4 linked regions of the Homo sapiens genome follow. The protein of the gene in region 1 interacts with the protein of each later gene in a pairwise test. Each region holds a gene or a part of one and is shown in the gene's direction. Other genes may lie near its edges. The genes, in order: MFAP1, FCHSD2, ZNF134 and LMNB2.

Evidence for each region.
Region 2: the proteins of MFAP1 (region 1) and FCHSD2 interact in binary tests that used the Homo sapiens proteins (3 or more experiments, as listed by UniProt).
Region 3: the proteins of MFAP1 (region 1) and ZNF134 interact in binary tests that used the Homo sapiens proteins (3 or more experiments, as listed by UniProt).
Region 4: the proteins of MFAP1 (region 1) and LMNB2 interact in binary tests that used the Homo sapiens proteins (3 or more experiments, as listed by UniProt).

The regions. Positions count from the first base shown.
Region 1 is NC_000015.10:43,807,585-43,815,084, reverse strand, and holds part of MFAP1 (microfibrillar-associated protein 1), read left to right. Parts: intron 1-10; coding exon 11-140; intron 141-396; coding exon 397-584; intron 585-1,727; coding exon 1,728-1,836; intron 1,837-1,937; coding exon 1,938-2,098; intron 2,099-5,170; coding exon 5,171-5,330; intron 5,331-7,500. UniProt on the Homo sapiens protein: Involved in pre-mRNA splicing as a component of the spliceosome.
Region 2 is NC_000011.10:73,138,945-73,147,257, reverse strand, and holds the start of FCHSD2 (F-BAR and double SH3 domains protein 2), read left to right. Parts: upstream 1-4,939; 5' UTR 4,940-5,380; coding exon 5,381-5,401; intron 5,402-5,773; exon of another isoform or gene 5,774-6,037; intron 6,038-7,129; coding exon 7,130-7,227; intron 7,228-8,313. UniProt on the Homo sapiens protein: Adapter protein that plays a role in endocytosis via clathrin-coated pits. Contributes to the internalization of cell surface receptors, such as integrin ITGB1 and transferrin receptor.
Region 3 is NC_000019.10:57,609,707-57,617,694, forward strand, and holds the start of ZNF134 (zinc finger protein 134), read left to right. Parts: upstream 1-4,535; 5' UTR 4,536-4,797; intron 4,798-7,988. UniProt on the Homo sapiens protein: May be involved in transcriptional regulation.
Region 4 is NC_000019.10:2,446,696-2,454,195, reverse strand, and holds part of LMNB2 (lamin-B2), read left to right. Parts: intron 1-7,500. UniProt on the Homo sapiens protein: Lamins are intermediate filament proteins that assemble into a filamentous meshwork, and which constitute the major components of the nuclear lamina, a fibrous layer on the nucleoplasmic side of the inner nuclear membrane.

The DNA.
Region 1 (7,500 bases):
TGTTTTTCAGATTGGCTCGACATCGAAAAATAGTGGAACCTGAAGTGGTAGGAGAGAGTGACTCAGAAGTAGAAGGAGATGCTTGGCGCATGGAACGAGAAGACAGCAGTGAAGAAGAGGAGGAGGAAATTGATGATGAGGTATGATAAAGGAACATGGGAAGTTTTTTTCTGGATATAAGAAAAAGTTCATGCCAGTGCTCATTTGTTGAAGCCTTAAAAACATGAGATCACTGCTTTGGCAGGACTCTGATCATGTTCCTTGTTTGTGGGGATAGGATTAAAAATAGAATGATACTAAGTTGTATCTTTTTACATTTGAATTTGTTGTGTTTGATGAGACGAACAAAAAGCCATAGGCCATTTGACTGACTGGCTTATATATATGACTTGATAGGAAATAGAGCGGCGGCGTGGCATGATGCGTCAGCGAGCACAGGAGAGAAAAAATGAAGAGATGGAAGTCATGGAAGTGGAAGATGAGGGTCGTTCTGGAGAGGAGTCAGAATCAGAGTCTGAGTATGAAGAGTACACAGACAGTGAAGATGAGATGGAGCCTCGCCTTAAGCCAGTCTTCATTCGAAAGTAAGTATCTCACAAGCCAGATCTGAATCCACTTAATTACCACTTTCCAGGCCTGGAGACAAAAGTCTGTTTTCTGTCTTGCTATTCTGAAATCTAAACGCTGAGTGAAAGTGCTTTTGCTAGTGCTCTACCCTTGGCAGACTAGCTGCTGAGGAATATCTTGGCGTTAGCAGAGAACCTGAGTTTGTTTTCACATCTCTTTTTTCAGTAATAGAGCATATATCTGTCCAAGGCCTTTTTTTGTTTGTTTGAGACAGAGTTTCGCTCTTGTTGCCCAGGCTGGAGTGCAATGGCATGATCTCGGCTCACCACAACCTCCACCTCCTGGTTTCAAGCAGTTCTGCCTCTGTCTCCCGAGTAGCTGGGATTACAGGCATGCGCCACCACGCCTGGCTAATTTTGTATTTTTAGTAGAGAGGGGGTTTTTCCATGTTGGTCAGGCTGGTCTCGAACTCCCAACCTCAGGTGATCCGTCCTCCTCAGCCTCCCAAAGTGCTAGGATTACAGGCATGAGCCACGGCACCAAGCCAAGGCCATATATTTTTAAGCACAAAATTAAACTCAACGAGCAAATTCCTATTCCTTTCCTGATGGCTAGAAATCCTACTGCTTAGAGGCCAGCAGGTTCTTTGCTGTCTAGGCAGTTCTCAAAGATGAACATGATTTTAGTCCTCTAAAGACCTGGGATGATGGCTGGGCACGGTGGCTCACGACTGTAATCCCAGCACTTTGGGAGGCTGAGGTAGGTGGATCAGGAGGTCAGGAGTTCAAGACCAGCCTAGCCAAGATGGTGAAACCCCATCTCTACTAAAAATACAAAGAAATTAATCAGGTGTGGTGGCAGACTCTTGTAATCCCAGCTACTCAGGAGGCTGAGGCAGAGAATTGCTTGAACCCAGGAGGCGGAGGTTGCAGTGAGCCAAGATCACACCACTGCACTGCAGCCTAGGCGACAAGTGAGACTCCGTCTCAAAAAAAAAAAAAAAAAAAAAGACCTGGGATGACTCAGCGTTTTTTGCTCTTTGAAAATAATAGAGCCAAAGATTGTTTGGTTTTTGTCTGATTTGGATGGGACTAGGTCTAGGGGAACAAAGCACTCCACTCTAAGGACTTTGGGCAATTAACAGGATCTCTGTGATGCAGGAAGGACCGAGTGACAGTTCAAGAACGTGAAGCCGAAGCATTGAAACAGAAGGAGCTGGAGCAGGAAGCAAAACGCATGGCTGAGGAAAGGCGCAAGTACACACTCAAGGTACTGGGGAGTGGTTGCAAGGAATGAGTACAAGAAATAGTGTAATCAGGTTTGTCTGAGGAGAGTAAGGAAGTCCAAGCTGAATTGTTCTCCCTATCCAGATTGTCGAAGAGGAAACCAAAAAAGAGCTGGAAGAGAACAAGCGATCCCTGGCTGCATTGGATGCACTCAATACTGATGATGAAAATGATGAGGAGGAATATGAGGCATGGAAAGTTCGAGAGCTAAAAAGAATCAAGAGGGACAGAGAAGATCGAGAAGCGTGAGTAAAAAGATGAGCCTAGAGTTAATGCTGCTAATGGAACAGGTTTCTAGCAGGATAGCTCTGAGACTCATTACCTACTGTGAGTTCCATTCTAGCCACCTTCAGAGTTCTTGTTGCTTTGTGAGTTTCCTATAATTGGAATATGAGTTTCACTTGCTACAGTGAAATCAGGGAAGAGAAAAACACTTTGTCGATGTGTGTCCATAATAGAGTGCCAGCCAGTGCTCCCTTTAGTTTCCTAGTAGACACAAAAATTAGTAACTGTTAGTAGTTATCTCTTCTTGTGTACAACCCAACCCACAATTGAGTGACTTGAAACTATAATTTATTACTTTTCACAACTTTGGAGGTTGGCTGAACAGTTCCTCTACTGATTTCACCTGGGCTTACTTATGTAGTTGCATCCAGCTGGAAGGTTGACTGGGCTGGAAACTTAAAAGGGCTTCACTCACATGTTAGTAGTAGGTGGTGGCTATCAGTTAGGATACCTCACTTATCCTTCACTGGATTAGACTGGCTTCCTTACATAGCAGTCTCAGGGCACCATTCTAAGAGGGCAAGGTCTTCTGACATGTCGGTTCCAGAACTCATACATCGATCTTGCCACATACTGGTCAAAGCAAGTCACAAGGCCAACCTAGCTTTAAGCAGGTGGAGAAACAGACTCCACCTCTGCAGAGGAGGAGCAGCAAAGTCATACTTTTTGAAAAGGGGCATACATACTGTGAGGGGAAGAATTTGTGGCACTTAAATAATCTACACTGTGTTAGAGCAGAATCTTTTTTTTTTTTTTTTGACATGAAGTTTCACTTTTCACCCAGGCTGCAGTGAAGTGTCACAATCTCAGCTCACTGCAGCCTCCGCCTGCCAGGTTCAAGTGATTTTCCTGCCTCAGCCTCCCAAGTAGCTGGGATTACAGGCATGCGCCACCATGCCTGGCTAATTTTCGTATTTTTAGTACAGACAGGGTTTCACCATGTTGGTCAGGCTGGTCTCGAACTCATGATCTCAGGTTGTCCACCCAACTCGGCCTCCCAAAGTGCTGGGATTATGGCATGAGCCATCATGCCCGGCCCCAGCAGAATCATTTCTGAGCTGCATCACTCATTCCTGTAAATTACTAGGTATGAGAGGGTAATCCCAGATTACAAAGGAAACCATCAATAGATAACTCTAGGCTGGGCGTGATGGCTCACACCCATAATCCCAGCACTTTGGGTGGCTGAGGCAGGCGAATCACTTCAGGCTGAGAGTTCAAGACCAGCTTGGCCAACATGGTGAAAACCTATCTCTACTAAAATACAAAAATTAGCTGGGTGTGGTGGTGTGTGCCTGTTATTCCCAGCTACTCGGGAGGCGGAGGCAAGAGAATCGCTTGAACCCGGCAGGCAGAGGTTGCGGTGAGCTGAGATCGTGCCACTGCACTCCAGCCTAGGTGACAGAGTGAGACTCTATCTGGAAAAAAAAAAAAAAGAAAAAAAGAAAACTTGCCTGAGTATGAGCTACACACAGTAGATAACTCCATACTCAGCCTGTAATTTTTTGTTTTTGGTTTTTTTTTTTTTTTTGAGACACAGTCTCACTCTGTCGCCCAGGCTGGAGTGCAGTGGCGCAATCTTGGCTCACTACAACCTCCACCCCCTGGGAGTCAAGCGGTTCTCCTGCCTCAGCCTCCTGCGTAGCTGGGACTACAGGTATATGCCACCACGCCCAGCTAATTTTTGTATTTTTAGTAGAGGTGGGTTTTCACCATGTCGGCCAGGCTGGCCTTGAACTCCTGACTTCAGGTGATCCACCCACCTCGGCCTCCCAAAGTGCTGGGATTACAGGCATGAGCCACCACGCCTGGCCCTCAGCCTGTAGTTTCTAAGATTTTTATCCTGGACCTGTAGGAGTAGGAGTCTAAGTGCCCTTTAAAATTGTACACAAGGCCGGGCGTGGTGGCTCACGCCTGTAATCCCAACAATTTGGGAGGCCGAGGTGGGCGGCTCACAAGGTCAGGAGTTTGACACCCGCCTGTCCAACATGGTGAAACCCTGTCTGTACTAAAAATACAAAAATTAGTCGGGCATGGTGGCACACACCTGTAATCCCAGCTACTCAGGAGGCTGAAGCAGGAGAATAGCTTGAACCTGGGAGGCAGAGGTTGCAGTGAGCCAAGATCATGCCACTGCACTCCAGCCTGGGCAACAGAGCAAGATTCCATCTCAAAAAAATATAAAATTGTACACAAAATTGTGTGTATGTATGCATTTTATTTGGAGACAAGGGATATCACTCCCTCTCCCCAACACTGGCTAAAAAGTTACTGCAATCTGGCTGGGCGCAGTGGCTCACGCCTATAATCCCAACACTTTGGAAGGCCAAGGCGGGCGGATCACGAGGTCAGGAGATTGAGACCATCCTGGCTAACACGGTGAAACCCCGTCTCTACTAAAAATTCAAAAAGATTAGCTGGGCATGGTGGCGGGCACCTGTAGTCCCAGCTAATCGGGAGGCTGAGGCAGGAGAATGGCATGAACCCAGGAGGCGGAGCTTGCAGTGAGCCAAGATCACACCACTGCACTCCAGCCTGGGCGACAGAGCAAGACTCCATCTCACCAAAAAGAAAAAAAAAAAAAAAAGTTACTGCAATCTAATTAATGATGGTAATCTTTGGTTTATGACATGCAAGCACCTATATGATTATGATACACTTACATAAAGGAATACCAGCAAAGCCTCAGACACTTATTTTAAATTCACTGATTTTTTTTTTTTTTTAAAGCTAAGAAGACCTTTTAGGGAAAGAGAATTTGTAATGTTGGAAAACCCAGCAGTAATAGTATGTCTGAACGTCAGAAGGGCTAGAATCAACTTTTGAAAGTTGGCAATACCTAGTCTAGCAAACATAATGAAGACTAACTCACCCATTTGTTTATTGAGCTCCTTATCTTGATTCCTAATAGGCAATGACTAGAATTAAAGAAGGTGACTAATACTTGAAATGACATGGGACTGTTATTTTCAGATAATTTGGTCTTTCTGAAGCTGTAACAGTACCAATAAATTGTTTTGCTCCCTGGACAGGCTTGAGAAGGAGAAAGCAGAAATTGAACGCATGCGAAACCTGACTGAGGAAGAGAGGAGAGCTGAACTTCGGGCAAACGGCAAAGTCATTACCAACAAAGCTGTTAAGGGCAAATACAAGTTCTTACAGAAGTATTATCACCGGGGTGCCTTCTTCATGGTAAGAAGTGAAAAGAGAGTCAGAAAATTGGGCAGTAGGAATAACTCAGAAACTTTGAATTATTTTTCTCTTCAAGAATATTCTGGAATGTAATTTCCACTTGCCAGTGGTCAGCTTTCTCATTTGCTTTTTCCTTCTGAACAATATAAACTCAGAGAAAAGCATCAGCAATTGGATGACAGAAGTAGCATCAACTGTTCTCTCTTTTGGCCCCAACTCTCAAAAATAGGAAATGATGTAATAGACTTTTTTTTTTTTTTTAAGAGACAGAGTCTCGCTGTCACCCAGGCTGGGGTACGGTGGTGCGATTATAGTTCACTGCAACCTTGACGTCCTGCGCTTTACACCTGCTTCAGCCTCCAGAGTAGCTGGGACTACAGGCATGCAACAACCATGCCTGGCTTTTTTTTTTTTTTTGGTTATTTTTTTTTTAATTTTTCGTAAAGACCAGGTTTCACTATGTTGCCCAGGCTGGTGTTGACCTTCTGGCCTCAAGCAATCCTCCCACCTCAGCCTCCCAAAGTATTAGGAATACAGGCATGAGCCATCATCCCCAGCCTTAGATAAATTGAGGAAATGAAATAGAGAAGTGATCTGTACAGATAGTGGACTAATTAGGTCCTCCACATGACATAGTTGTCATTCTTTCATAGCTGAATGAGAAGTTTTGGTTATGTGAAAACCAAACTCTGCAAATAGCTTTACATTAATTCACTTTTGGGTGGCAGAAAGTTAGTTCACTTCATTCTGAACTGACAGTACCCAAGAGTAACTAACCAAAAAAAATGGTTTATTATCTAACCATTAGATGGAATGCCGTCATCTTTGTTTTTCATATAAAGACTAAGATCAAAATAGCAATCTGTTAACCCTGTATGGTTTATTTCCTAATGTTAAAGCAGTTTGCACCAAAAACTAGACTAGCTTTTTCAAGTGCCGTGTGGCAAATTCTAAATATCCCCACTGCAACTAAATTCCTGCCTTTCACTGCAGATGCTGTTAAAACTTCAGTGGCGGCTTCCCTGCCACCCTCCAAAATCAGTTTCAGGTCTATCTGATTAGCAGGAAGTGTTTACTTAGGTAGTTTTCCAGCAGATGTAGCTTACTATTCAGTGGAGATTATGAACTACTTCTTGTACTGCTTCGGTCATAAAGTTTGTTTGCTTAAGCAGTTCGCAGCTTTAATAATCAAGTTTCTTAGAGAAGCAGTTCATTGCTAGTTAAGATACATAAGAAAAGTGTATGTGAAAGTCCTTTGGTGGGCCAGGTACATTGGCTAATGCCTGTAATCTTAACATTTTGGGAGGCAAGGCCAGCAGATCAGTTGAGCCCAGGAGTTCAGCCCGGGCAACATGGCAAAACCCCATCTCTACAAAAAATACAAAAATTAGGCGTGGTGGTCCGTGCCTGTAGTGTCACCTATCAAGGGGCTGAGGTGGAAGGATTGCTTCAGCCCGAGAGGTTGAGGCTGCAGTCAGCCGTGATCGTGCCACTGCACTGCAGCCTGGGTGGCTGACCAAGACTTTGTCTCAAAATAAATTGTTTTTAAAAAGTCTTTCTTAAACAAGATAGTGCTATTTTTAATTCCTTCAGCATATGTGTTTATAAATATGTATCACAGCATTGTAATATTATCACTCAGGCTAGAGTGCAGTGGTGCAGTCATGGCTCACTGCTGCCTCATTCTCCTGGGCTCAAGCAGTCCTCCTGCCTCAGCCTCCTGAGTAATTGGGACTACAGGTGTGTGCCACCACACCTAATTTCTATTTTGTAGAGATGGGTTTTGCTATGTAGCCCAGGCTGGTCTCAAACTCCTGGGCTCAAACTCTCCTTCCACCTTGGCCTCCCAAAGTGCTGGGATTACAGGCAAGAGCAACTGCATCCAGCCTTACTAATGTTGTTTATTTCATTGAGTAAGTAAGCTTTAGTGCATATACTATGCAAAGGTCACTGTTTAGCACTGTTAGCGAGAATACATAATCACTATAACATAAGTAAAAGTAAAGTACTGTAGGGGTTCTGACGAGAGAGATGTTATATTTGGTAGAAGATTGAAAGGGTTGACGTAAAGGTTGTAACATTTAAGCATTTAAGATGTATAATTTTGGGCCGGGCGCGGTGGCTCACGCCTGTAATCCCAGCACTTTGGGAGGCCAAGGCAGGCGGATCA
Region 2 (8,313 bases), on another chromosome or scaffold:
TTATTATTCCTATTTTATAGATGTAGAAACCAAGGTTGAGAGGACAGTGATGCGCTAGAGGTCACACTCAGTGAGTACCTGGCAGAGATAGAATTAGCACCGTGGTTTCCTGCCTTGTAATGTTAAAACCATGTGCCTATCAGCTCCTACCATAGCCCTGGGACTGACTGCTCATTTACCGTACACCCCCACCCCTGCCACCCAAAGTTGTAATATTCCCTGGTAGGGGCAACACTTGACAAGATAATTCCTGGTCCCAGTGCCTGCTTCTTAGGGACTTGCCTCTGGCCTTAGATCTCTGCTACCACCTGGTAGGATCTGGGTCCCTATGACCCTCCTGGCCCTGCATGTTTCACTGCTGTGACCTTGGTCTCTGTATTGAGATTGGGAGCTCCTGGTGGGCAGCTCCTCACCTCAGAGACCTGCTTATGACTAAGCCCAGGATAAGGGCTTGTTGAGTGATACTATGGAATTCAAGGCCTAGTGCCTTGAACAAACTCACTATGTGTCTTAAGGAGAGCCCCTGCTCTCTTCTGGTGGCCACCAATCTTGAAGTCTCATTTACCTGTGCTGGGATTCTGTCCTGAGAGCTGATAGTGGAAGAGACTGGCACACTCTCACATCAGGCTGGCAGGAGGCTGGTGTTGAGGGAATTAGCTCAGGGAGCAAAGGCATGGGTAGGGAAAGGTGACTAGGGGTAGGAAGGAGATGAATGGGGATGGGGTCCATAGACCACACTGTCTGCCGCAGCATCCCCAGCTGGACTTGGTGGGGCCCAGGCAGGGAATAGCTGGCATCCAGACGTGCTAACAAGTATTCCTGAGCAGTCTGTGTCAATGCAGGTGGGGGATAATGACACAGAGGAAGACAGAGTAGAGAGAGCTGATGGACCCCAACTGCAGGAACGGTCAGGGATGCTTTGGTGCAGTGTGGGCAGGGGGACTGGCAGCTACTTTCTCTGAAGAGAGCCTTTGACGAAGTCAAACTGTCCTAGGTGCGTGCTCTGGATGGGGAGTAGTGTGCTACTCATGTTCTGGCCATGCTAAAGGGCCGCTGTATACTTTGTCTCCCTGCCAGTTTTCCCAGGAGCCCTGGAATATCAGAACAGCTGATCTTCTGATACCCATTCATATACCTGCTCCAGGCCAGTTTTTGATCCTAGCTCTGACTTAACCTTAGAATCATATTCCTAATGAAATGGGAGACTGCACTGCAGCATGCTGGAGGGAGAGCACAGCTTCAGAGCCAGGGGCCAGCCCTCCCTTTCCTTCACTAGCTGTGTGACCTTGGGTAGGTCATTTCACTTCTGAGCTGCAGCCTGTGCAATGGGGTTATATGTATTATGAGGAGTTGTTGTGAATGTTGGAAACAATGTAAATAACACGCCTATTTTAATGTCTGGAACATGGAAGAGGCAAAATAAATGGCAGCTGTTATTAATTTCTTTTCAGAGTGAGATCCCATCTGTGGTCTCCTTGATGGAAGGGAGCCAGAACCTGTTTGCACAGCCCCAGGGACAGGGAGCTCACTCCTTCCAGGGGTAGCTCTGCCTGGAAAAGTTCCTTCCTGAGATGCAGCTAACACCTGTCCCAGTTTTGTCTCTGGGGCCATAGTGCCTGCTGCTCTGCACCATTTCCCCAAAGAATCTCAAGCAATGCTACTGGCAACACAGCGCTTGCCTGCATTGCAGGAGCAAGGCTCTGGAAGTCCCCAACCCTGTTCAAAATGGTACATTTCAAGTCAGGCTTACATAAGTCACAGAAATCCCTTCCCTGGTCCCCTAGAGTCTGGAACATAATGGATTGTATCCTCCTGGGTCTGCTTATTTTCCTGCGTTAGGAACTCTCCCAATTCCTTTGAACATTCTTCATACACGAACATTCCTCATCGGACAACTGGGTTATGGTCTGAAGTCTATCATGTCAGGGCAAGTCACTTATCCCCACTGAGCCTCCAGTTCTCCATCAGTAAAAATGAAGAAACGAATACTATCTCATGGGTAAAGATTAGCTTGGAAAAGTAATATGAAAGTTTAGGGTTTGGAAGAGACACTTGGTAAGTATTAAAACAATTTTTTTAAATCACAGTTTTGAAATAGGAGTTAGTAGGTAAGCCCATCTGGTATTGCCCTTAGCTCTTTATAACACTTCCAAAGGAAATCATTCCAGAAAGTCAGTGCCACTCCTGGCTTCAGAACGGTGGCAAATCAGGTAGAGGATGCCCTCCTATATGCATAAACGAAATCCCCAGGGTCTGACTTCTTCTGTGAAGAGCCTCCTAAGTTCTAGGCTCACTCACTTATCTTATTCTGCAGGCCAGCACCAAGGCCCAGAGAAGACCCACTAGATCCATGGTAGAGGCTGGATCCCATGTCTCCCAACATCCAGCACCATTATACCCCAGTGCTCACTTCCTAAGAAGAGAGGTGAAGGGAGGATAATCTCTGGGCCAGACCAGTTGCACCCAAGACTAGGATTCAGCAAATCTTTGTTAAGCACTTGTTATGTGCATGACACTGCATCCGGGCCAAGTACTGTGTTACTCCTCTTCCACTAGCCCAGTGTCATTCAAGGAATGGTTGGTCTGGAACTCAGTCTTGGCGAAGGCTGATTCTATCTTGCTCATCTCTAGAACCCCAGTGCCTGGCACAGGCTTGGAACAAAGCAGGACTTTAGCAAGTATTTTTTGAATGAATGATGAATCAATAAGCACTTATTTTATTTTTTATTTTTTATTTTTTTTTGAGACGGAGTTTCGTTCTGTCCCCCAGGCTGGAGTGCAGTGGTGCCATCTCTGCTCACTGCAAGCTCCACCTCCCGGGTTCACGCTATTCTCCTGCCTCAGCCTCCTGAGTAGCTGGGACTACAGGCACCCGCCATCACGTCTGGCTAATTTTTTGTATTTTTAGTAGAGACGGGGTTTCACCGTGTTAGCCAGGATGGCCTCGATCTCTTGACCTTGTGATCTGGCCACCTCGGCCTCCCAAAGTGCTGGGATTACAGGCGTGAGCCACCGCGCCTGGCCTCAATAAGCACTTATTAAGCACTACATGCCAGGCCCTGTGGTAGGAGAAATTCTATTTAATACAGTAAGCCTATGAGGCTAGCATTATACCTCCATTTTACAAGTGAGGAAACAAGGCTGAAATAAGTGAATTGACTAGCTCAACGCTTCACAATAAATTGGTGGTGGAGCTGAGACTGGAGCCCAGCCTACGCTACCTATGGCCTGGGCTCTAGCTGCCACCCCGCAGCTGTCAGGGCCCTGGGCCTCCATCCACCTGTCCCCTTGCCCCAGGCCTTCCCTGATTTGATTAAGGATTCTGGTGAAGGGCTAACTTTTGAAGCCAGAAAAAGCAAGACTAGTCTCCTAGTTCATACACAGCTCTAGATTAATCTTATTCAAAACACAGCTCTGTCACTTTTCTGTACAAGAATCTAGTCTAACTCAATGTAAACAACCTGGGTTGAAGTTCCACCTTTTCAATTTCTGGTCATGTGGTCATCTGGGAAGTTACTCGTCTATCCAGGCCTCATTCACCTTCCTCTTAGGCCTGACTGCACTTCTGAGAACAGCTGTCTGGGATCTCAACTTCTGAAAAAACGGTGGAGTAATCCAGCTCAGCCTCCACACAGCCCCGTGACTCAAAAAAAAAAAAAAAACCTCCCTGGGCATGGGGAAGAGGTATTCCTCTTCTGAGGACCCCAAGGGAGGTCGATAAACTCCCCCGTAGATGGTCTGAACAGAGCAGGAAGGTTCATGTGTGGTGGTGGGGTGCACTGCTTAGATAAGCACCCTCACTGGCAGATAAGGAAGCCGAGCTCACCTAGCCTGTTAAGGAGCAGGCAAAGTGGACTGGCACCCAGAGATCCTGACTCCCAGACAAGGGCTTCCTCTATGGCCTCTCCTGCCTCTTCTACTTTTCCTCGTGCTTATTATCCTGCACCTGTTTCTTTTTTAAAATAACCCATAGAACACTTCCTGACGCAGATTCTAGTCCTGCTGTGTAACCTTTAGAAAGGCTTCCCTCTATGGGCACTTGCCTCCCCGTCTGTGAAACGGGGGCCTCGGCCTTAACGTTCTCTTGGCTCCCTCTCAGCGGAGTCAGTGATGTTTGACTTGAATGCCCTGCAGTAGAGTGCCGCCGTTTCCTTTGCAGAGCAACTGCCTTTCCGCCCTACAATCGCAATGGCCTGGCACCTGCGGCCAGCCGCAAAGCGACTTGTCCTTGCTCGCCTCTCTCGCGCACATCTAGCTGGTAGGGAGAGTAGGGTGTTGAGGGGCTGAGAGGAAGAAAACGCCGGAATTCTCGTATCCCACAGGCATGCTGCGCCCCCCTCCCCACTGCAAACGTTTCCCTGCGAGCGTCGTCCCCCGCGCCCCCCGACACACACACACACACACACACACACACACACACACACACACACACACACACACACACACGCAAAGGCAGGCAGGAGGCGGGGGCGGCCTGTGCGCGTGCGTCGGCGCGGAGCCCTCTCCCGCCCACGTGCGCGCCCCCGAGCGGAGACGCGCGCGCCGGGGCGAGCTGGCGGGAAAGCGCGCGGGAAGCCCCCGGCTGGCTCCCAGCGTGGGGGAGGGAGGGCAGGAGGCGTCTGGAACGTGCCACTCTCGGAGAGAAAGGGGGGATTTTCGCGTGGCGCTGGCGTTTCTACACCTCCCACCCACCGACCAATCCGTTAGCTTCCCCCTTCCCCTGCCGCGGTACGAAGCCCCGTGCCGTGGCCTAGCTCCCTCCTGGCAGCCCGGACCGGCCCCTCGAACCCCGCTCTGGACAGAGCGGTTCCCTCAGCATCCGGAGCGGGGCGCTGCGCCGCGCGGCGAGGCCGGAAATTCCCGCGGCCTGAGTGGTGGAGCCCTAGCGGGGAGAGCGGCGCCACCTTCCTCCTCCCGGGCGGGCGGGGGCGTTAGGCCCAGCGAGGGCCGGGCCGCCTGAGTGGGTGGGGTGGGGGCCGCTGCGTCCGCCGGGAGCGGCGGCGCAGGCGGCCGACCGGGAGCGCGGACAACGCGGCTGCGGCTAACCCGCCGCCCGGCCGGCTGAGACCCTCGCGCCCCTGCTCCTGGGGCCCCCGCCCCCTCGCCGTCTCCGCCTCCTTCCTCACACACCCCCGGGCCGCCCGGGCCGCCCGGGCCCCAAGCCTTCCCGGTGCTCCTCCCTCGTCTCCTCACACTCGCTCTCTGGCTGGGGTCCGCCTGCCGCCCGCTGGCCTGCTCCCTCCGGGGCAAGTCTTGCTTCTTAAGCGCTCCTTTCACACACGCGCGCGCTCGCTGGGCCGTCCCCTCCTCTCCGGCCCTCCTCCTCCTCCTGGTCCTTGCTAACGCTGCCGTCGGGGAGGATTGATGTCCCTTCAGCATCATGCAGCCGCCGCCGAGGAAGGTAAGGGCGCAGCTGGGGGGCTTTGGGGTTCGGAGAGATGCGTACGCGGAACGCGGCTGGGGCGACCGCTGCGCCCCTTCCCCCTCCCGCAAGGGGCCGTGACCGCCCTCGTCTTGGGCTTGTCACCGACTTGCCGCCGGCTCCAGGTGGGGGGCGCGCGTGTGAGTTGCCTTTCCGACAGAGGGGCCGCCGGGGCTCGTCCGTCCTCTAACGCAGGAGACCCCCAGACATTTCACAAGAGTTTCGGGTGTGCATTTGTGTGTGTGCGCGCGCATGGCAATGCTGCCCGCTGCAAAGTGCATTCTCGGGGCTGCACCGAGGGGGAGGCGGGGACGCCCCTGCAGCTTTGCAGAGCCTTGTGCGTGTGTGATTGTTTAGTCTGCACCAGCTTTGAGCCCTCCAGCCGCTTGTCGCCAGCCCCGCCCGTTTGCAAATTTGCGGGGGATTTGTTTCTAGCCTAGCCTTAGGGTTTGGCCTGCTTTTCCCACGGGGCGGCCGAAAAGAAGTTGGAATAGTCACCGCCTCCCCACCCCAAGGGAAAACAAATTAAGGATTGACGGGTCCTGCCTCGTCCCCGGCTGAGGGGCGAGGAGGCTGTCGTGCTGTCTTCAGAAAAGCGAGGACCGGGCCCGGGAGGTGCGTGGGGTGTGCACTGCGATCCGGGGTTGGATGACCAGGGTGGGAGTGACGGATGCACCCGGCTTGTCATCAGTCTCCCCGCTGCGCCCTTCCCCAGCTTTCCCAGGGGCCGAGGCTGTGTCCTTGTCTTTTTAATCCTACAGATGGATACTGAATGTCTACTCTGGGCACTGGGTGGATGAGGCCGTTCTGTCCTCCCCTCGTGGGCAAACATTTGCCTAACGCCTAACTCACCCGTGTCTGCTGCCGCTGCTTTCTCTCTTTCCTAATCCGGGTTTCTCCATTTAAGTGAGTCCTTTTCTTTCGAACATGTACCCCCACCCCTCCGGGTGGTCCCACTGCTGAGGCCGAGATTCCAGACTGACCGTTAACTTCGAACCCTGGGGCCCCGGCCTGGCGGGCGAGGCTCTCTGGCCAGCAGGCATTTGCTGTTCTCCGCTGTTTGAAGTGGAGCCTCCACGGGGATCGGCTTCCCGGGGTAGTTTAAAAGCACTGCATATGCTGGAAGGTCACTTTTGCTTTCTCCTTTGTGAGAAAGAGATTGTGATTTGATGCGCTGTCAGCAAGTCGAGGGCATCATTCTGAGACAGTGTGCTTTTTCGCAGCCATTATGGAGTAATTTATGTAGTCGATTCAGGCATATTATCATGATTGTGTAAATATTGGTCATTGGGTATCAGGCACTCTTAGGCTCCCAGCCCCCATCCACACTCTGCTCACCTCTCCTGGTGGTTAATGTCTTTGAATCTTTTTTAGAAATAGAAGACAGGCTCTTTTAAAACTGTAGGAAGACCTAGACGTGGATTGAGCTTGTGCATGAAATGGAATGACTGGCAGTTTATTTTGCACGTCTTTAGTTTGTAATATTTATAGTCGTGTATTTTCATTTAACCTCTGTTCAGGCTATTTGGCTTTAATTTTTCATTAAATAAGTATCTTCAATAAATAAAACTAGATGGCGAATATTGGATTTATGGCCTTCAGGGGAGAGGCGAGCAAGAGACATATTCTGACAGATGTATTTTCCTGAAGCAATTTTTTTGGGTTAAATTTGTAAAAAGACCTTCATAAATATATGGTATATTTTAGGTGAAAGTTACACAAGAACTGAAAAACATTCAAGTTGAGCAGATGACAAAACTTCAAGCCAAACATCAAGCAGAATGTGATTTGCTTGAAGATATGAGGTAAGGCTATAGTAAATAGTTCAAGGACTTCTGTTTGTCTGTTTCAAAGAACCTTTGAGTTACCAAGCCCCAGGAACTGATGATGGAATTTCCTTTTGGATTTCCTGCTTTAAGGCTGTTAGAACTTTGACTCAGCTGGAAATTAGAACTGGAACTAACACAATACAAACTTTTTCCTTCAGTGGGGGACCTATAATGCACACATAGTATTCAGAAAAAACAAGGACCTTAAAAGTCTTACTAGTCAAATTATAATAATTAAAGATTCTTGTTTAAATAATCTTTCCACGGAATTGTAACAATCATTTTATTGACCTTAACGGTTTTACACAGTTAGATTTTTAAACCAACACTTGTGGTTAATGGTTAATATCTGGGGGTGAGCCAGTCAACCCCAGATGGTTATATGCTCTCACTGGGTTAGAACATGACAAATACAACTTTGTTTTTGAGTGCCAAATTTAGTGAGAAGTGTGTTTATCATATTTTATTTTATTATTGAGGTTACTCATATTCATAATCAAGTTAACTTTGAATAGCTAAGACATCTTGCTAATATTGTGAAAATCAGTATCTTTCTTACTAGAGGGATGGATGACTTATTTTAATGAAAGAAATACCACTTATTTAACAATCTTGTAATACAGACTGACAGTTCAACAAAGATTTTCGTCAAGAATGGAAGATGATTTGCATGGTGAAGCAAGAGTGGCTGCAATTCTTATTTCCCTTGTATAATACATTTATCAAATTGGAATTGGGTCTGTAAGCCTCATCAGTTACCTAGTTTTCTGGTGGTACACTAACTTCGTGTTGGTTTCATGAAAAATATTAACTCTGGTGTTAATGATAAAATTATGTGTTTGGATTGCTGTTTATAGCCCAAAGATTTTAGTTTCAAGAATTTCCTTTTTTCCTCTCCTATATTTAGGCACTATAAGCATTTCTGCTGTATACCTGTCTTCAGGGTTTATGACTAAGGCATATAAATCTATTCTCATCCAACCTGGATATATCAAGATTGTTGTTTTCTGACTGAAAATTACAATTTTAATTCTGTATTTGTCTTCCTTCCCTTATCATAGC
Region 3 (7,988 bases), on another chromosome or scaffold:
TGTGTGTCTTGTAGCTCAAGTTATTACTAGAGACAACAAGGGTTTTGTGGATTCCTGTAGCCTCTCTGGCCTGTTTACTTCAAGGCCATTGCTGCACAGACAAAAAAAAAAAAGGATGAAGTCAAGAGAGATTCGGTTGTCCTTGGTGCGGCTTTTGTGATCCAGTAGCAATCCTCTTAACGCTGATGGAAATGGCCTTCATTGCTCACCTGTATTTCCTGCCACTGAAGCAGGTCTGCCTCTACGTGGCCTGGGGAGCTAGATGGTAGAGTCAATAGAGACTTAGTAAACCAGACTTTTTGAAGTGTCAATGACCAAGATTGTTATTGCATCCATTAAAAAAAAATCAAGTTATAATTGATGTGGAATAAATTATATATATTTAAAGTGTACAACTTGATAAGTTCTGACATAAATGTAAACCCATGGAAGCATTGTTGTAATCATAAGAATGAGCATATCTCACCTGCATATTTTACTTTTGCTCTTTTATAATACATTCCAGAATATGCAGGCAACTTTTAACATTCCTTTACAATTGATTGACTTGAATTTTCTGGAATTTTATTTTAGACATCATAAAGTGTGTATTTTTTTGTGCTTTTATTTATAAAACTTCCCCTTAGGTAAGGGCCTGAGGTTAACTTTGGAGGTGACAGATATGTCCAACACCATTGATAGGGTGATGATTTCAAAAGTGTACATATGTGTGTGTGTGTGTGTGTGTGTGTGTGTGTGTGTGTATACTTACTGTTTTAATATGTGCAGTACATTGCATGTTGATTACACCTCAATGAACCTATAAAAAGTTATTCCATTTAAAAATCTGGGCCTCCCACTTCTATTGGAAACTGGACAACTTGACAGCCTGCAGTGTTTTGAAACAGCATGGATTGGGTGTCTTGTTTCCAGCATATGTCCCATGTTCCCCAACACTGTTCCTCAGGAAACAGGGAGGAACAGCTGTTCCTCAGGACCTGCTGAGTGGCCATATTCCCTGAAGGCCAGAAAAGTAACAAGGTGACCGTTTTGGACAAAATTCTGAGCTTAAAACCTTGCCTGAATCAGTAGCCCCCAAATTCATTGTGCACATCTTATAATTTCCAAGAACACACATATTAAGTGAATATTTTTATGTTTATAATTGTGAAATGGTCTGTTCAGGGCTGTCATTCCTCAACCTTTTTTTTCAACCACCCTCTCATTAAGGAAGCATATGTATTAATCATGGTTTCTGTTTTTTGTATTATATGTCTTGACATCTTAAAATTCTTGCTGGTGACAGAGAGACTTACCCTACCAGAGGTAGCTAATTTCTAAAAATAGTAAACAACTACCTTGAGAGCAAGGCAAGCCAACTACCCTCTTTATCTAACTCTTACTCACCAAGCCAATACTTTCCCTGCACTAAATCATCCCAGCGTTACTGCCAGTGATTTTGCAGCAGTCTGCAGCAATTTTGGTCCTTGCCTCCTCAGAAGAAAATTCAACCGAGGAGGCAGAGGTTGGCTTAAGGCACAGGAAGAGACCAAGGCAAGTTTTTTTTAGCAGGAGTGAGAGTTTATTAAAATGTTTTAGAGTAGGAGTGAAAGGAATCAAAGTACACTTGGAAAAGGGCCAAGTGGATAACTTGAGAGGTCAAGTGCCCCACTTGATCCTTGGCTTGGGACTTTATACATTTGCTTATTTCCCAGGCTCTTTATTCTCCTTCCTTCGGTAGGCTGTTGCTTGACTACTGCATGCACAGTGGTCTGCCAGTACTTGGGAGGGGCCGCATGCAGTTTGTTTACTGAAGTCATACATATACTCATTTGGGGTGATCTTCCCTTAACAAGTCATGCACCCCCAGAGGAAGGTCAAATACCAGTCAAATTTTGCCATCTTGCCCCATTTTGTGCATGCTCGAAACCTTATCAGGGGTTGTGGTTCACTGGCTCCAGGTGTTTTCTATCTGTTGGAAAACTCTTTTCCCTCCTGGTACCAATCATGGCCACTTATCATCTCAGAGGGATAGTTTTATGCTTTCCTGTCCTTCACCCAATGAGAGCTGGACATCTCGGGGGTCCCTCTCTTGTTTTGTTTATTATCTCAGAGGAAAAGATTTATGATTGCCTGTCCTTGACTCCAAAATTGCCTGACATTCCTGGGGTCCCTCTCTCCTGCCCTACTCTTATCTACCTACTCTAACACCAGGGTGAGGGTATGAGGCAACTAGAGACCACCCCTGTAAATCGAAGCCAACCAGAATTATTCAGACTAGCCAGTACTCAGCTGTTTGCTCTGATCTGGCCTAGGCTTTCCCCTAGCTCTTGCTTCTTCCTTTAGACTGAAACCTGTTCCTCCTGTGGCCCTGCATGGCATACTGTACTTCCCATTTCTAGGGAAATTCTGAGTAACATTAAACTTTTATTTCACTGGCATTGAGCTCTCCATGTCCTTTTCCAATAAAGACCCATCCACAAATTGGCCTCTCTTGGCTATGTAATATTACATATCTTTCCAGCACTTCTCAATGCCTTCACCTTCTCTTTTCTCCATTATGCCTGCCACATTCTAACATTCCATATAATTTAGCATTTTTTTCATATTTCCTCCTCTTTCTTGAGTACAGCGTAAGCTATTGGGGTCTGTCTCTTGTTTTGTAAATGTCCCATGCAGTTAAGATAGTGTCTGAAATACAGTAGGTGTTCCTTGAATATTTCTTAGAACTATGAATAAGCATAATACTACAGCATCCCTGTTCACCTTAATATTCTGATAGCACTTTCTAAATGTTTTCTTTACTTCTCCTTCCAGGTATTATTGAGTGTTTTCAAGAATGAAAAGAGGCCTGGCATGGTGGCTCACATCTGTAATCCCAACTTTTTGGGAGGCTGAGGTGGGAGGATCCCTTGAGCCCAAGAGTTTGAGGCTGCAGCAAGCTATGATCGTGCCACTACACTCCAGCCTGTGCAACACAGTGAGATCCTGTCTCCAAAATTAAATAAATAAATAAAATTACATTTTGGAGACTAAACGCTGCTTGTAGTCATAGTTCTAACACAGCTGTGTGCTCAGCTTCATTTGCTCACTTCTCAGAATTCAATGTCTCCTGCTCAAATTTTGCTGTCATCTTAACCGTTTTCACTTATCACAGATATGTTTCTCCAGGTCCATTTCGTCATGTATCTGTGAATAACTACAGAATTATTAACTTTGAGTAATTTGGCCGGGCGCGGGGGCTCTCCTGTAATCCCAGCACTTTGGGAGGCTGAGGCGGGCAGATCACGAGGTCAGGAGATCGAGACCATCCTGGCTAACACGGTGAAACCCCATCTCTACTAAAAATACAAAAAGTTAGCCGGGCATGGTGGCAGGCGCCTGTAATCCCAGCTACTCCGGAGGCTGAGGCAGGAGAATAGTGTGAACCTGGGAGGCGGAGCCTGCAGTGAGCTATGGTCGCACCACTGCACTCCAGCCTGGGCGACTGAGCAAGACTCCGTCTCAAAAAAAAAAAACACAAAACAACTTTTGAGTAATTTAAACAATTCACAAATGTTTTTGTCTTTCTTTCCCCATACACTCGCCCTTTTCTTTTTTAAAACCATAAATAAATCTCAATTCTCAATTCAGACACTGTCGGTGTAATTGCAGGTGAAATGAGAATCACCTCCCAGCCAAGAAATCTGATCCCAATTTTCCAAATCTTTATTTCTGGGTTCAGACACCACATTTTCAGCCCCTGTCTTGGCATATAAAAGCATTTATAATGGTTCTTCTTTTCAGATAAGAAACATCACCAAAAGGAAATAGATATATCTCAACTTTTGGGCTAGGAACTCTCATTTGGATAAAAGAATATTTCTCCTTTGGTTGGACATTAGTGACCATACAGGCAGGAAAGGTGCCTTCCTTGACCACCTTCTCTCGCCTGTCTTCCTCCTCATGGTTCTCTCAGGTATTTTTTTTCTGAGGAAACCAGAGGAAGAGCTCTATATTAGTCCACTTGCCTCAGGGAGCTCCAGCATCCCTCCATAGCCACTGTCTGGAGACCATTCTTCCACTCCATGGCCCTGCCTGGGGACAATTCTCTGTTAACTCTGACCCAACTGAGGCTCACAAAACTGACTCAAAGCTTCCCTCTACAGTACACATATTTTTTAAATGAAGGAAATTTGACTGAACTATGAGTGGACTCAGAGTGACATTGGATGTTGTGTGTCCATTTGGTGGTGTGGCTTCAGGGAACATCTGTAAGAATATATCCCAATATTTCGGGGATCCCTGCAGACCTCACTACACAAGACCTGGTTGAGGGTCCTTTAAAAGGAGCGAAGCCACGCCCTGACCTCAGAGTCTCAGGGCATAATTTCTCAGCGCCCCTCGCAGTACCATTTGGCCTTTGCCCAGCGTGCAGGGGAGTTAGCCGTCACCACGGCCAAGTGCACATGAGAACTGCATTGCCCAGAAACCTGTGCGCCGCCCGGCGGCGGCACTCTTAGGGGCGTCTCCCTGCGGACGGAAGCTCTCTGGGCGGGACTTCCGGTATCTTCCTCGCGGTGGACATCTTGTCGGCTCTTAGGTGGAACCATCGGAGCAGAAGCTCGGGGTTGCTGGGCGGTTCCGAGGTGACGGAAGCGGGAGGGTGCGGGAGAAGTCGCTGTTCGCTCTGCGGAGTGGCTCGCCAGCGAAGACCCCGCCTGCGCCCCCGGGGACGGACGACCGCGGTGCCAGGGTCCCGCGACCTGGGACCCCCTCGCGGCTCCGGGTGGTCTACGAACTGTGATGGCGGCGGCCGCGGTGATGGGCCCGGCGCAGGTGGGTGCTGCCTTTCCCAGACTTTCGCCCGCCCCAAATCCTGAAGTTCCAAATGAGGAGCGCCTGTCTGAGTCCCTGCAGCGCAGGCCCCAGTGTCCAAGGCAGCGGGGCGCTGGTGGGTGGGGGCGAGTGTGACTGGCAGAGGGGCAGCCTGAGCATAGGTTTGGAGCTGGACTGAGCCCGTAGCAGTCGGGAGCGTGTGTGAACCGTAGTCAGGCCTGCAATGTCGAGGGGAGAAGTTGCTCCTTCATTGCGAGGACGATAGGAGCCATGGCGGGTTTTGAATGGTGGAGGGAAGGGATCCGAAAAAGGATTTTTAAAGTATTCCAATGTTTGCTGAGGAGGAAACCGACTACAGTGAGGTAGAAACGATGAGGATGGAGGCAAGGAGACGTTTGAGGAGGTCCCTGCAACAAACTCCAGAAGTGTTGCGGTGGTGGCTGGGCCAGAGCAGTGGCAGGAGGGGTTGGGTGGGGAAGTCATGAGATTCTGGGTAGATTTTTAAAGATGGAACCAATGGGGTTTCCTGCCGCATCAGATGTGGTCGTGAGTGAATGTAGGGAGGAAAGGGCTATCCAGGGTTTTTTTGGCCTGTTTTCCTTCCTGAACGTGTGAAAGAATGGAAATTGGTAAGTCACAGCAGGGAGCACGTTTCAGGGGCATCAGGAATTGGGTTTTGGACTTGGTGAATCTAAGGTGTTCTGCACTGGAGGTTCATCACGGGTAGCTGAACATGCAGGTCTGGGGTTCTAGAGAGGGAGTTGTGCTAGAGACTTCAATGGGTGAGGCATAAGGTCAAAGCCTGTAGTAGATCAGATTTAGAGGGTGGAATTTCAAGGAAGTTATTTTGTGTGGTCTCTGAAGTGAGAGGTGGGTTTAGGGTGGAAGGCCAGGGATGAAGGGGTGGACACTTAAGATTCCTTCCAGAAAGGAGGGGTCCTGGCATGTGAAAGCATTCTAGATGGTGTTGTTGGAAGTCAATGCTTGGTGCTGCAAAGTGAAACCAGCACTCAGGCAAAAGTTTTCTCAGCAAGGCAATTTACTTCTGTGCAAGTGTGCTGCCTGTGTTAATCACGATCCCAAGAGCACACTGAACAAAGGAGGGAAGGGGTTTTTATCTCTAACCCATAGTCCCTACCTTCCTCTGTGTCACTCCCCCATGGGCTGGGGTCGGACCGCTTAATCTAAGCTGAGCCAATTGGGTATTTGTGAGTATTTTCCAAATAAGGAAGAGGGAAGGGGAAGGTGAGTTACAGTGGTGGGACATGTGAGTTGTGTAGGACGTGTGGTTTTGGCGGGGGCAATGGGTGCAAAGTGAGTAAGGGAACAGATGTGAATTATTGGTTAGTGCTTACAGGAAGGTTGTTTATAGTAACTAGGGGCAAGGAGGCATGGAGAACAAGAAAGGTTTGAGAACAAAGAACAAGGAAGTTAACAGGCTAAACCTTTGAAGAGGAATTTTATTATATCTTATAGTGTCAGCAAGAGGAGAGGGCTGTAGAGCATAAGTAGCCTGGCCTGCACTGGAGACCAAGGTGAGGGATGCAGTAGGTTTGCCACCCTACAGGCTCAGCATGCCTTCATGGGCGCTGCCTGTGGAGCAGTCCCATCCCCAACCAGTGCATTGGTGCCTCAGTTACCCAAACCCTCAGGTAAGCAGAATTGATGAACATCTCTAATGAAGGATCACTGCAGCTCCCCTTCAGAGGAATATGTATCAGGTAGGCTGGTTTAGTGCAAGGGCTAGTGTACACCTTGCAAGTACGCAGAAGGAACTAAAAAATGTATGTACAAAGTAAGGGAAATTTATACTAGCACTTAATGATTGGTCAAAATATTAAGTTGCCTTGAAGTATTTTATTACAATGGAAAAATCTTAACCAAATTTTCTTAAAAGCTTTAAAGCAGGCAAAACAAACCTAATTTTTCAAAAACTCATCAGTTCATTTGCATGGATAGTAGTAGCTGTTTCAAAGGCACTTGAGATGTACAGACAAGCCTGATACAAACAGTAGCCCTATGAGGTGGGTGCCATTATTATCCCCACTTTTAAGATGAGGACACTCAGACGCTGGTCTTTATGTTCACACAGCTGGTGGGAGCCAGCACTGAGATCTGAGTATCTGAAGTTAGAGAGGTAACCCAAAATCATTCCTGCCAAAGGGCAGGGTAGGCAGGGCTTAGGGAAACAGTTCAGTCGATGAGATCCCACTGTGGGAACCTGCCACTCCCAGCTTCCCTCCTCTTGTGAGGTTGCCATGGTGGCAGAAACTTATGATTCCTACCTAGATGAGAGTAGATTGTCTCAGGCCCTCACTTAGCCCAACACACCCCCATTATCTCAGCAACTCAGTGTGGAGAATGATAGTGTTCTGGGACTCTTCAGTGTCCCTTCTGCCTACCGTTCTTGGAGGTCCTGCAGTCACCCAAAGCTCTGTGTTGTAAATTCTGTTTTGGAATTATGTGGAAGGGTTTCTATTTCTGGCAAGCAATGGGATGAAATGTGGAACATTATCTCAGGCATAGGAACCAGCATGTGCAAATACTTAACTTAAGGCTAAACTAGGAGTGTTCAGGGAACCTCAGGCCTCCATTATGTCTGGTGGGATCAGACAGCAGGGACAGGATTCAGCCCAGAAATGGCAGCCTGAGGATCTGGGTTTGTATGCTGAGAGAATTGGGAGCCACTGCAGGTTTGGAGCTAGGAGGGAGTGATCTGACTTTGGTCTTAACCAACTTCCTCTGTACAGTGAAAAAAGACTGTGGGAGTGAGGATGAAGGAAGGAATACCACTGAGGAGCTTAATGCAACAGTTCAGGTTGGACCAGAGTGGTCGCTGTAGAGGTGGGAGATGTGGATGGATTCTGAATCATTTTTCTTAAAGTGGGACCAACCAGATTTTCTGATGTGGAAGATGAGAAAGAAAAGGCAAGGGGTGAAGGAAGACCCTGGATTTTTTAGTCTGAGAAGATATAAAGATGCCATCAACTGAAGTGACAAAGTTGGTGGTAGGAGTACCTTTCAGAGGTAATATCAGGAGTGCAGTTTGGCTATGTGGAATCTACCATGTTCCAAAGACACTTGAGTGGAGGTGTCAAGTAGACAGCTGGACACAGAGATCTGAAGTTCAGAGAAGGGATTCAGGTTGGAGCTATCCACAGGGTGGCAGCCAGCATGTGGATCAGGATGGA
Region 4 (7,500 bases), on another chromosome or scaffold:
CCCGTCTCCCGAGTAGCTGGGATTACAGGTGTTCACCACCATGCCCGGCTCATTTTTGTATTTTTAGTAGAGACAGAGTTTGGCCTTGTTGGTCAGGCTGGTCTCAAACTCCTGGCCTCAGGTGATCTGCCTGCCTCGGCCTCCCAAAGTACTGGGATTACAGGTGTGAGCCGCCGTGCCTGGCCAGTCCCCTGCTTTTCAATTAGTGTGGCTTTGGGCAGGCCCCTGTGTCTCTTGGAGCCTCCATCTTGCCATCTGTCCAGTGCGGAGTTGTCCCAACTTAGAGGCCGCCTGCTGGACCCGTGGCGTGCAGGGTTAGAGCTGGTTTCTTGTCTTTGGGCCTCTGTTATCCCACCTGCCAATGGGACGAACAGCTGCAGGGAGCTTTGAGGGTGCAGGGCCTGGTGAGTGCTGGGGAGGTACCAGCCCCAGCCCCACTGGACGCCCCATTGGACCGGCCCTGTGCCCTAGAGGGAGCCTGGCCCAGCCACCTCTCGGGGCCGCAGCAGCATCCTTTACAACTCAGTTCACTCAGGCTGGGTGAAATGCGGGTCTGACTCCAGTGAAGGCAGCCATTTAGCAGGTGACACACTGGCCCCTCCGTGAGCCCTGTCACCCAGCCGTGTCTGCAGGGCATGTGGCAGGGGACAGCTGGGAGTTCCGCCTGCGACTAGTGGGCCAGGAACCCGGCTAGTGGGGAGCAGAGTTGGAAGCCTGCTGGGGTGGGGGCCGCTGGTGGGGGGACGTCATGTGGGCCCACATGGAGGGAGTGACCTGGAATAGCTGGGGGCCTTCTAGACACAGGTGGGCCACGTGGGGTTCAGAGAGCAGCCTCAGGCTCAGGCTGGCAGGATGGGGGCAGGGGAGGGAGCTCTGAACGAGGAGGGACCTGGGGTGTCAGGCCTAAGAGCATGCAGGTCACCTGGACAGCAGGGCCTCTCTCACCTGGCCAGCTTCTGCCCCCAGGGGACTCTTGGCCAAGGCTGGGCATGCCCTTGGTTGTCACATTGGGAGGGAGACGGCATCGGCACAGCGTGGGTGGAGGCTGGGTACTGCTCAGCGCCCCGAGAAGAGAATCACCTGGCCCCCACGAGGATGACGCAGCCCTCACGAGGATGACCCAGCCCCATGAGGATGACCCAGCCCCCACGAGGATGACCCAGCCCCCACGAGGATGACCCAGCCCCCATTAGGATGACCCAGCCCCCATTAGGATGACCCATCCCCCATTAGGATGACCCAGCCCCCATGAGGATGACGCAGCCCCCATGAGGATGACCCATCCCCCACGAGGATGACGCAGCCTCCATGAGGGTAACACGGCCCCCATGAGAATGGCCAGGCCGAGGAGCCTGCTGGGAGGCGTGAGGGACTCAGTTCAGATTTTTTCAGGCTCATAACACGACTCACAGCATCCTGGTGTGTGGCGGCCCCCGAGGTCCTCACACACGCCTTTCTCACTTCTTTTTTGAGATAGAGTCTCACTCTGTCGCCCAGGCTGGAGTGCAGTGGTGTGATCTCGGCTGACTGCAACCTCTGCCTCCCAGGTTCAAGCAATTCTCCTGCCTCACCCTCCTAAGTAGCTGGGATTACAGGCGTGTACCACCACACCCGGCTAATTTTTGTATTTTTAGTAGAGATGGGATTTCACCATGTTGGCCAGGATGGTCTCTATCTCTTGACCTTGTGATCTGCCCGCCTCAGCTTTCCAAAATGCTGGGATTGCAGGTGTGAGCCAGTATGCCTGGCCTTTTTTTTTTTCTAGACAGAGTCTCTCTCTGTCGCCCAGGCTGGTGTGCAGTGGCGTGATCTTGGCTCACTGCAACCTCTACCTCCTGGGTTCAAGGGCTTCTCGTGCCTCAGCCTTCTGAGTAGCTGGGATTACAGGCGCCCACCACCATGCCCGGCTAACTTGCTCACTTCTTTCCTGCCCGCAGGAGTTCACCCTTGCACACTCGTACAAAACCAGGCCAAGCATGGGTTCCACATTCCCATGTGACACTAGGGGGTGTCTTTTGGCGGTGTGGATGAATCGCCATATACAAGCATCGTTGGAGGGCTTGGGAAAGGGTGGGGTGGGGGCTGGCCAGATGGGTATTTGTTGAAGGAGGATCACTGAGTGCTGGGGGCGGGGGCAGGTGCAGGGAGGCCGCGCTGTGGCCCGTGTCCAGGCGCGGGAGAGGCAGGTACTCCAGGTACTTCCCTGCCAGGCCTTACGTTCCCGAGGGAGGAGACCTGGCTTCGGCATCTTCTGTCTTCCCCTGCCCCGGTGTCCCCTGGCTGCTCAGGGCTGCTGGAGGGGGTCTCGGAGGCGGCCCAGGCGAGCGTGGAGGATGGAGTCCACTTTGGAAGTGACCCCAAGCCGGTGTTTGCATTTTCTGCACAGGGCTGTAGTTCTTAGCCGGGCCATTTTGTCCCACCGTGGCCTCCTCCAGCCGAGTTATGCTGCTCTGTGTGTCCGAGGGGTCCCAGGCAAAGGCCATCTCAGGCTATCTGAGCCCTGCCAGGCCCACATGTGTGGACACACTTGTTGACTTCCCTCAAGCCTAGCACTTGCTAGATGCCGTGAAAGATGAAAGAAAAGGCCCAGCCTGTCCCCAGCCCTTTGCAGCGCCTCACAAGCACAAGGAGGCCGTCCTGCCCCGGCACACCCGTTCCGCAGGCTCAAAGGGTCTTTGTGAGGTGCCCCAGCCTCTAGAACTTTCCTCATCATCACAGCACGGCAGACCAGGCATGGTCAGCAGACTTTTTCTAAAAAAGGCCAGACTGTCTGCATCTGAACCACTCAGCTCTGCCATAGGATGAAAGCTGCCTTAGCCCATAGGTGAATAAGTGGGTGCTGCTATGTGTCAATAAAACTTTATTTATACACATGGAACTGTGAAGTGCATAGAATCTGCCTGTGTCACAAAGTCTCTTCATCTTCCCCCCTGGCCTTTATCGTTTTTGTTTTTGAGACAGTCTCGTTTTCCAGGCTGGAATGCAGTGGCACAATCTCCGCTCACTTCAACCTCTGCCTCCCGGATTCAGGCGATGAAGCGATTCTTGTGCCTCAGCCTCCCCAGTAGCTGGGATCACAGGTTTGCACTGCCACGCCCAGCTAATTTTTGTATTTTTAGCAGAGATGGGGTTTCACCATGCTGGTCAGGCTGGTCTCGAACTCCTGACCTCAGGGGATCTGCCAGCCTCTGCCTCCCAAAGTGCTGGGATTATAGGCATGAGCCACCTCTCCTGGCTACCCCTAGCCATTTAAAAATGTAAAAACCGTCTGGGCGCAGTGGCTCACACCTATAATCCCAGCACTTTGGGAGGCCGAGGTGGGCGGATCACGAGGTCAGGAGATTGAAACCAGCCTGGCCAACATGGTGAAGCCCCGTCTCTACTAAAAATACAAAAATTAGCTGGGCGTGGTGGTGCACGGCTATAGTCCCAGTTACTTGGGAGGCAGGAGAATCGCTTGAACCCGGGAAGCAGAGGTTGCTGTGAGCTCAGATCATGCCACTGCACTCCAGCCTGGGCAACAGAGTCTTGCCCTGTGCTCGCCCAGGCTGGAATGCAATGGTGCAATTTTTGTGTTTTTAGTAGAGATGGGGTTTCACCATGTTGACCAGACTGGTCTTAAATTCCTGACCTCAGGTGATCTGCCCGCCTCAGCCTCCCATCATCTTATGCCAGGTGCGGTGGCTCATGCCTGTAATCCCAGCACTTTGGAAGGCTGAGGCAGGCTGATCCTCCTGCCTCAGCCTCCCAAAGTTGTAGGACTGCAGCTGTGAGCCACTGCTCCCAGCAACATCCATCATGTATTCAGACTTCCTCAGTTTCCCCGATGTCCTTTCCTGCCCCAAGACCCCATCCACTATCTCACGTGACATTTAGTGACTACGTCACTGTCTCCCAGGCTCCTCCAGGCTGATAGTTTCCCCCACGTTCCTGGTTAGAGGTTCTGGTTGGTCCTGAGCGGGCTGGGCAGGTGTGCAGTAGGATGTTCCTCAATGGGGGTTTGTGTGTTGTTTTGCTCATCGTCACGCTGGGGCGATGGGATGAGTAATGTTTTAATGGAATATATATATATATGTGTATATATATATGTATATGTATATGTATTTTATTTTCTTTTTTTTGAGACGGAGTTTCACTCTGTTGCCCAGGCTGGAGTGCAGTGGCGTGATCTTGGCTCACCACAACCTCCGCCTCCCTGGTTCAAGCGATTCTCCTGCCTCAGCCTCCTGGGTAGCTGGGATTACAGGCATACACCACCATGCCCGGCTAATTCTGTATTTTTAGTAGAGACAGGGTTTCTCCATGTTGGTCAGGCTGGTCTCGAACTCCTGACCTCAGGTGATCCAACTGCCTTGGCCTCCCGAAGTGCTGGGATGACAGGCGTGAGCCACGGCGCCCAGACATATGTATATTTTTTTTGAGACAGGGTCTCTCTGTACCACCCAGGCTGCAGCGTAGTGGCGTGATCTCAGCTCACTGCAACCTCTGCCTCCCGGGTTCAAGTGATTCTCCTGTCTCAGCCTCCCGAGTAGCTGGGATTACAGGCGCCTACCACCACACCCAGCTAATTTGTGTTTTAATAGAGACAGGGTTTCACCATGTTGGCCAGGCTGGTCTCGAACTGCTGACCTCAAGTAATTCGCCCGCCTCAGCCTCCCAAAGTGCTGGGATTTCAGGCATGCACCAGCGCACCGGGCCCTAATGGATTATCTTTTAAAAATCAATTAATTCAAAAAATCTACAATGAACAAACTATTAATTCAAGTCAGGTGTCGTTTAGTGACAGGGATACCTTGTGGAAAGCGTGTCGTTAGGAGACGTGCCCCTTGTGTGGGCATGGTAGAGTGCACTCCCACACTCCCGGATGGTGGAAGCCACCACACACCCAGGCTTGGGCGTGGCCTCCTAGGCCACAGACCCACACCGCCCGCTCCTCTGTGGAATGCTGTGGGCACCGGTTACACAATGGTAAGTATGTGAGCATTTAAACACGAGAAAGGGCTGGGTGCGGTGGCTCCCGCCTATAATCCCAGTACTTTGGGAGGCTGGGGCAGGCAGATTGCTTGAGTCCAGGAGTTTGAGACCAGCCTGGGCAACATAGCAAGACCCCATCTCTTAAAAAAAAAGTTAGAAACTAATTAGGCAGGCATAGTAGTATGTGTGCCTATAGTCCCAGCTATTGGGGCAGCTGAGACAGGAGGATTGCTTGAGCCCAGAGTTTGAGGCTGCAGTGAGCTGTGATTGCGGCATTGCTCTCCAGGCTGGGTGTGGCTCTGTCTCAAAATAAGTAAATAAACACAAGAAAGGTGCAGTAAGAATATGGTATTAGATTCTTTTTCTTTTTATTTTTTGAAGTGGAGTCTGGCTGTCGCCAGGCTGGAGTGCAATGGCCCAATCTTGGCTCACAGCAACCCCTGCCTCCTGGGTTCAAGCAATTTTCCTGCCTCAGCCTCCTGAGTAGCTGGTATTACAGGTGCACGCCACCATGCCCGGCTAATTTTTTTGTATTTTTAGTAGAGACAGGGTTTCACCGTGTTAACAAGGATGGTCTTGATCTCCTAACCTCGTAATCCGCCCACCTCAGCCTCCCAAAGTGCTGGGATGACAGGGGTGAGCCCCCATGCCAGGTTTGCATTAGAGTCTTACAGGACCGCCGTGCACATGGTCTGGGGGTGCTCAGCATGCCTCTGTGCGTGTGGCTGCCATTGCAGAGTTGCTGTTTTTTCTCACCTTGAACGGGCTCCTGTGTGTCCCGGCGCTGATCTTGTCTTTGTTGGAAACTCTGCTGTTTTGTTCATCCTGGCCCCTCTGCCTCGTGAGCCGCAGTCAGCTCTCTCTCTGTGGGGACAGGAGAGCTCGTGTGTGACCCCCATCCTGAGGGTGTCCCGTCAGCCCCTCCCTTGAGGTTAGGGGTATTTGGGAGCTTTGAGGGAGAGGCAGACACCACCATGCCTGCACCTGGTGCCCAGCTGTTTGCAGCGTGGAGCTGGCCGCTTTTTCCTGATTTGGGTTTTTCTAGAAGTCTGTTCCCAGGACACAGATGTGGAGGGCACGGCCCAGATGATCGCCTGCATGGGAGGGAGGGCTTGGGGGTGGCCGGGGTGCCGCGGGAGGAGCTCGCTTTGCACTGCTGCCTCTGTGGGTCCCCGTCCTACAATTGGTCCCCGCAGACCTGATATGTCTAGGACCCAGCGGTGGTCAGGAGGCGGCTTTTTACTGACCCGTGCCTCAGTTTTCCCATACATAAAATCAGGTTGGGAACCCTTATCCCGCCCCACTGTAGGCTGACGGGACTTGGAGCTGCGGTGCTGGGGCAGCCTGAGACTCTGACTTGTCCAGATGGCCCAGCATGCGTTGGTTTGAGGCTGAGGGTCCCACCTCAGAAGAGGCCCGGTCACTGCCAAGGGGTGCGTCCTGGCAGGCCCCCAGCCCTCTGCACAGGAGCCTCGCCTGTAACATGGGGGTGTGGCCCTCCAGATGCAGGCCGACCCTGTACCCACCTTGCATAGACACCCTTGGCCCTGTAGGGCTGTGGGAACATCACGGCGTTCTAGCGGGTGGTGCTGGGCCTGGTTCCGCCTACCATCCTCCGGTCCTCCTTTTCCTCAGCGCCAGAGCCGGAGCAGTTAATTCCCGCCTCATAAGGTTCACCCAGCTCACCCGTAGGTTTCGCGTTTTCATATCTCCACAGCTGTGCCACCACCAATGTGTCCAATTTTAGAACGTTCATCCCCACTAAAAGAAGCCTGTCCCCCTCAGCGGTCACTCCCCGTCCCCTTCTCCAGCCCCGCTGCCCACACACCCGCTGCCTGTGTCTGTGCACTGGCCTGACCTGGACATTTCATGGAAATGGGATTACACACTGTGTGGCGTTTTGTGTCTGGCGTCTCATGAGTGTGACATCCTCAAGGGGCATCCACACTGTGGTGTCAGAACCTTGCTCCGTTACACAGCTGGGTCATGTTCCTGTGTGTGGATGGTGGAGGGACCGCATTGCTTTTATTTTTTTATTTATTTTTATTTTTCATTTTATTTATTTATTTATTTATTTTGAAACTGAGTCTCGCTCTGTCTCCCAGGCTGGAGGGCAGTGGTGCGATCTCGGCTCACTGCAAGTTCCACCTCCCGGGTTCATGCCATTCTCCTGCCTCAGCCTCCCAAGTAGCTGGGACCACAGGCGCCCACCACCACGCCTGGCTAATTTTTTGTATGTTTTTTTAGTAGAGACGGGGTTTCACTGTGTTAGCCAGGATGGTCTCGATCTCCTGACCTTGTGATCCGCCCGCCTCGGCTTCCCAAAGTGCTGGGATTACAGGTGTGAGCCACTGCGCCCGGCACCATGTGTAGTTTTCAAACATGCATGGATGTGAATTTCATGTCTTCTGGGTCCACACCCAGGAGTGGAGTTACCGGGTCACAGGGTGGCTCTGTGACTCTTGGGGGAGCCCCTGGACTGTTTTCTGTAGAGCTGTCTCAGCTCAGGTTCCTGCCGCTGCCTGT